2 separate regions of the Homo sapiens genome follow, and region 1 is linked to region 2. The links come from fine-mapping of genetic effects on gene expression. Tissue or cell type: thyroid. Region 2 holds a variant in brackets; the other region holds the start of a gene. All regions are shown on one strand. Distances are between the middles of the regions.

Region 1 (2,686 bases), 37 kb before region 2:
AAAATAAAATAAAATAAAATAAAATAAAAAGTTAAAAAAAAAATGCAAGGTGAGTGCAGTGGCTCATGTCTGTAATCCTAGCACTTTAGGAGGCTGAGATAAGATGGGAGGATCGCTTGAGCCCAGAAGTTTGAGACCAGACTGGGCAACAAAGCAACACGCTCATCTGGAAAGGAAGGAAGGAAGGAAGGAAGGAGGGAAGGAAGGAAGGAAAAAAAATTTCAAACATACACAAAAGTTGAGAGAATTGTGTAATTGACCCCAATGTACCATCACCCAGCTTCAATAATTATCGATACTTTTAGGCAGGTTTCTACCAGAAAATATGTCCTGGAAACTTTAATTCTTGATCTGTGTTCAGATTTTGCCTTTCAAATGTTTCATTATTGGGGCTTTGGACATATTGCACCTGTATTAAAAGAAGGATTTGAGTGAGGAATTTAGTGCTTCATAGTCAATAGTCAATGAGTCTCCTTTTGGCTCGCCTCCTTCTTAGGGAAAGGAACTGGTTGTAGGGTGTTAGGCAGAATTTGGGTGTATCTGTTGTGGCTCAGAGATGTTTCTCATAGAACTGATCACTGTCCCAATATCCACGCAAAAGACCAAATTAAAAGCGAGGAGAAATACCTAATGTAAATGACAAGTTAATGGGTGCAGCACACCAACATGGCGCATGTATACATATGTAACAAACCTGCACGTTGTGCACATGTACCCTAGAACTTAAAGTATAATAATAATAATAATAATAATAATAATAATAATAAAGCGAGGGTGGGTATCTAGCCTATTCTTATCCTGCCTCATGGTGTTTTCTAAATATTTACAGAAAGAAAATTTACAGAGTAGTTTCCTGGTCAAACTCTAATGAGTATCTCAGTACTTTCCCCTCCACTTCTCACGTCTTCTTTGGGGACGGGTCGTCAAGTCTTTGAGTTTCTAGTTATTGCTATTGACTGGTTTATAACCTCCTCTTTCACCCAGATCGTCAAGGGCCGTTTGCAAAGCACTCCCAAGTAGAGCCTCTTGGAGAAGGAGAAACTGCTATCACGCAAAAAAAAAGCCTTGAGCTCGCTGGCTCCGCTGCCTCGAAAAGCCAGAGTCCGGAGGCAGTTTGATGCGGACACTATTCCCCAACCTTCTTCCCCTCCTTGTCGTCTCTATTGCCCTCTTGGCAGCTCCTGGGATACAAGAGGGTGCAGGACAGACTTCAACCCGCAGCAGGATCCAGCGCGGAAAGCTCTGCAGCAGGATCCAGCGCGGAAAGCCCCCCGCAGCACTTCTTTCGGGGGGCTCCTGTTTCCTTAAGCCTAGAAGGTGTGGTCGCTCACGTTCACCGTCCCGCCTCTCGCCGCCTCCGCTCGGCAGCTCCACGCTGAGTCCCGCCCTCTCCGCCGGAGAGGTGCGCCGGGGTCAGAGCGCCGGGACCCGACGCGCGGCTCCCAAAGGGCGGCAGGAAGAGCCCAGCTGGGCTCAGCCACAGTTATCAGCAATCTGCGGGCAGAGGATGTGGAGGTTAAGATCTGGGCAGCCTCAGGGCGTTGTCCTAGAAAACACCGTTTAAGGAGAGAAGTGTTAGTGTCTCGGGGCGTCTCCCAGGCTCCGCCCTGCGCCCGCAGCCAGCGTGGTGGTCGAGACCCCAGCCCGCTGCTACTGGAGACAGCACCTCTCGCGCCCGGGCGGGCGGCCTCGTCTCTGCACCCCTAGGCGGCGCTGCGCTCCTCAACACCCGGCCGGCTCCGCTTTCCCAGACGGCTGCCCAGCCTCCAGCCTAGCAAGCCCGGCTCCCAGCTGGCCAGCCCCGGCAATGCCGGCGTTCGGGAGGCGCAACGTCGGCGGTCGCTGAGTATCCAGCCCGCAGCAGTGACGGCCGGCAGGAGCGTGCTCTTCCCCGCGGCTCGTGCTCTCCAGGAGTCCGGAGCATGGTCCTGGGTCACCGTTGGTGTAGCGTGTTGGTGGAACGTGGACGCCTAGAGGGAGGATGGTGGGCTGTGGGGTGGCAGTTTTATGTTTGTGGGTTTCCTGCGGCGCTGCAGCGGGACAGCTCGAGTACTCAGTGCCGGAGGAGACGGAGCGGGGCGTAGCCGTAGGCAATCTCTCCGCGGACTTGAGGCTGCCAGCGGCCGCTATGTCCTCGCGGAACTTTCGCTTCCTTTCCAGCCACCGCGAGCTCTACTTCGGGGTGGATCTACCCAGCGGCAATTTGGTGGTCAGAGAGCCGGCGGACCGCGAACAGCTGTGCAGGGCCAAAGCTGCCTGCGTCTTGACCTACGACCTGGTGCTCGAGGACCCGCTGGAGCTGCACAAGATTCGGATTCACGTCCTGGACACCAATGACAACTCACCTCTCTTTCCTGCCGGCGACGTGCAGCTGCACATCCCCGAGTTCCTGACGCCCGGAGCCCGCTTTACTCTCCCGAATGCCCAAGATGACGACGAGGGAAGCAATGGGATACTAAGCTACAGCCTAAGCCCCAGTCAGCACTTTCGCCTGGACATGGGATCGCGGGTTGACGGCAGCGAATACCCGGAGTTGGTGTTGGAGAAAGCACTGGATCGCGAACAGCGCGCCACCCACCTGCTGGTGCTTACAGCTCGGGACGGCGGGCTACCTGCCCGCTCAGGAGACGCACAAGTCACCATCATTGTGGTGGACACAAATGACAACGCGCCTGTATTTGAGCGC
Region 2 (2,686 bases):
GAAGTAAAACTCCCCCCAATACTGGCTAGTTTGATTTTATCTGTTAATATTACGCAATCTGCCCCAAACCTGTCTCTCCCTTTTTATTGTTACTTATCCAAAGATGGCTTGAATCTCTTATGGCTTGAATCTCTTTGTTTATTCTAAGCAATTTTCAGACACCTCAGCCAACTATCAATAATATATTAGTTTTTTAGAACTAAAAATGTAGAGGATCTCCCCCTAAAAGCCAATTGTTAATGCCAAATATTTGACTGATATATTTCTTCTGGAGGAAGGGAGATGTGAAAAAATTTAGCCATCAAGTTATGTGAAAACTTTTTCATCTTCCCATCCACTGGATGTTTTATCTGTAAATAATGCTATAATCATATTGGAAAGTATTTTCCTTCTGGGGATGCATGAAGATCAGGAATCCTATTCGTTTTTAACAAGATGGAATTTTTAAAAACTACTTTGGACAACTCTAAACATCAGAGATGACCATTTGTCTCTTTTTTATTATATAACTTGTGCTCGGTTTGTAGAGCAACATAAATACATGAATTAAAAAATGAAAACTAGCTCCTTCCCTATTTGACAGATACTTCTCAACCTCCTCTCCATAAGATATGCTCTATCCCTATATAGGAAATTTTTCTGTAGCAGCTTGAGTTTACTAAAAATAAGATCTGAAGAAAATGAAGCAATTAACATTTATTGAGAGTCTATAAGGGTTTCTACATTGTGAAGGAGACAGAAATATAAGACATGGCTCCTGCTTTCAGGTTGCTTATAATTAAAGAGATAATATTAAATTATTTGGATGAATTTAAAAATGACACATGCCATCTTACAGATATGCTGTAGACTGTGAAAATGAAAAAAAAAACCTCGTGTTTAGAGTAGACACTGTTTGATGGATTAGGTAGGTTTTCATCTGGACTTTGAAATGTATGTAAGATTTTATAAGGAGGAGAGAAAATAAGAAGCTGTTTGTATTAGAATTACACAGATAAATTTGTAAATTTAGTTCTTTTCAAAGAACATTAATTGAGCACCTCTGTGCCAAGCTCCCTACTGGATGCTGTAGATTACAGCATGTTTAGGAACTAACTTCATACTCTGTTGCTAAAGTATTTCTGTGTTTTCTAAAAAGGTAAATCTCTTGTGAGGAAACAAATCTCTTGAAGGGGTTCTCATAACAGAAGTCCCATTTACTTCATGATATAAAAAGGGGCTGTTTTCTGGTTTTGTTCTCAAAATGTAGGATATAGTTCTAGACGTAATTGGGAAAGCTTAACTTTGTTGCATACGCATCTTCCCTATCATGGTTGATTTCCTATATGGCATAGTTAAATGTGTTTATCCGTGTTTGATATCTAAAGGGCCATGCTACATATAGACTGCCAACTAAGGTTTTATCTGATGATAATAAATTGTTGTATTTCATGACGACAGCAACAACAACAATAATGTACTTAACTAGTCACTGTGCAAATTGCTTTACATACATTTTCTCATGTAATCATAATAATAACCGTATGAGTTTTGCTTACTATTGTTTTCCTTAATTAAAATGAGTAAAGTGAAGCTTAGGCTAAGTAACATGTCCATAGCCAAACAGTTAGTCACTGGCAGGAGTGTGACTGACTCCAAAGTCTATATTCCTAATTACTGTGTTCTACTTTTTAATAG[A/G]GAGCTCTTGAAGGTCCAAGGAAAGGAATGCATAATGGTGTGGTCAAGGCATTAGTGTTAATATTTGTAGAAAGGGTAATTAACAACAGTCTGAGCAATCACATTCTAACAACTAGTAAGGTTGGCAGGAGCCTCAGTATAATGGTGTGAGGAACGAAATCATTATAGTGCCAAATAGAGTATACCATCTCTTTAGTACAATGTCTTTCAAAATGAGGCTGATTGTGTTGGCTTTATATTTGACTCCTTAATAATTAAGGCAGTAAATTCTAGCTGGAGCTAAATACCTACAAGGCCTAAAACAGCATAATGGACAACCTGGCAGGTGTCCTTGCTGGAAGATGACAAGAGTGCTGAAAGGAGAGTCCTGGTTTTTCTCCCAAGACATGACATTTGGGGGCTTCCATTAAAAAATTACCAAGCCTCTGCCACTGTAATCTCTTCCTTAAGTGCCTATGATTTTTTCACAGTCACAGGTCTATGCCTGGTCAATACCCAGTGGCCAGGTCTCTGAGCTGCGTGCAGAGATGGCAGCGACTTGGAGGGCTGGGAGGAGATAAGGGGAGGAAAGATCACTTTTCATGACAACTTACAACTTGATTCCACTTATAAGCCATTTATTTTCAGAAACAAGTAATGGGTGAGGACACAGGCCAGGTCCACAATTTGTGCACTTGAGAGATTAAGGCCTCCGAGATCAAATTACCACAGCAAACTGAGACAGAATTATTGTAGGGATGTTTGGGGAGGATGCAGAGAGAAGAGGAAGAAGCCAGAGACCCAAGAAAGGAGACAGGAATAGATTTTGATGAAAATTGCTTCCTACTCTGTACCCTTGAGGAAACAAAGAGGACAAATAAGAAGCAGCAGTGATAGGAGGCTGGGCGCTTCTCTGGAATAACACTGGCTAGGTAGTGGAGCATTGATAGTGAGTGTGCTTGGTTGGTGGAACGAAGGGATGTGCTAGTTCAGGCCTTTGAATTCTGGGTGTCAGGATCACAACCTTGGC

Alleles and levels. Positions count from the first base shown, and alleles are read on the strand shown. Sizes are in standard deviations (SD) of each study's normalised expression.
For the expression in thyroid of the gene that starts at base 1,388 in region 1, A is the low allele of the variant in region 2 and G is the other (small effect, 0.19 SD a copy in GTEx).

What was found. PIP is the estimated chance that this variant, and not a neighbour inherited with it, causes the effect. A credible set is the group of variants that fine-mapping cannot tell apart.
Region 1: PCDHAC1 starts here. The variant in region 2 is the best candidate, but not a certain one, in a credible set for the expression of PCDHAC1 in thyroid (GTEx, PIP 0.62).

The regions. Positions count from the first base shown.
Region 1 is chr5:140,924,912-140,927,597 of GRCh38, forward strand. It overlaps PCDHAC1 (protocadherin alpha subfamily C, 1), which reads left to right and starts at 1,388. Exons shown (of 4, transcript NM_018898.5): 1 at 1,388-2,686. The coding sequence starts at 1,982. The region is part of intron 1 of PCDHA1 (protocadherin alpha 1); the gene reads left to right. All of the region lies in intron 1 of PCDHA2 (protocadherin alpha 2), which reads left to right. All of the region lies in intron 1 of PCDHA3 (protocadherin alpha 3), which reads left to right. It also overlaps PCDHA4, PCDHA5, PCDHA6, PCDHA7, PCDHA8 and PCDHA9, and 5 more genes. RefSeq lists an enhancer at 1,971-2,528.
Region 2 is chr5:140,962,336-140,965,021 of GRCh38, forward strand. The region is part of intron 1 of PCDHA1 (protocadherin alpha 1); the gene reads left to right. All of the region lies in intron 1 of PCDHA2 (protocadherin alpha 2), which reads left to right. All of the region lies in intron 1 of PCDHA3 (protocadherin alpha 3), which reads left to right. All of the region lies in intron 1 of PCDHA4 (protocadherin alpha 4), which reads left to right. It also overlaps PCDHA5, PCDHA6, PCDHA7, PCDHA8, PCDHA9 and PCDHA10, and 5 more genes. Among named protein-coding and RNA genes, the nearest start is that of PCDHAC2, 2.8 kb to the right of the region's middle. The variant A/G (reference allele first, on the strand shown) is at 1,678.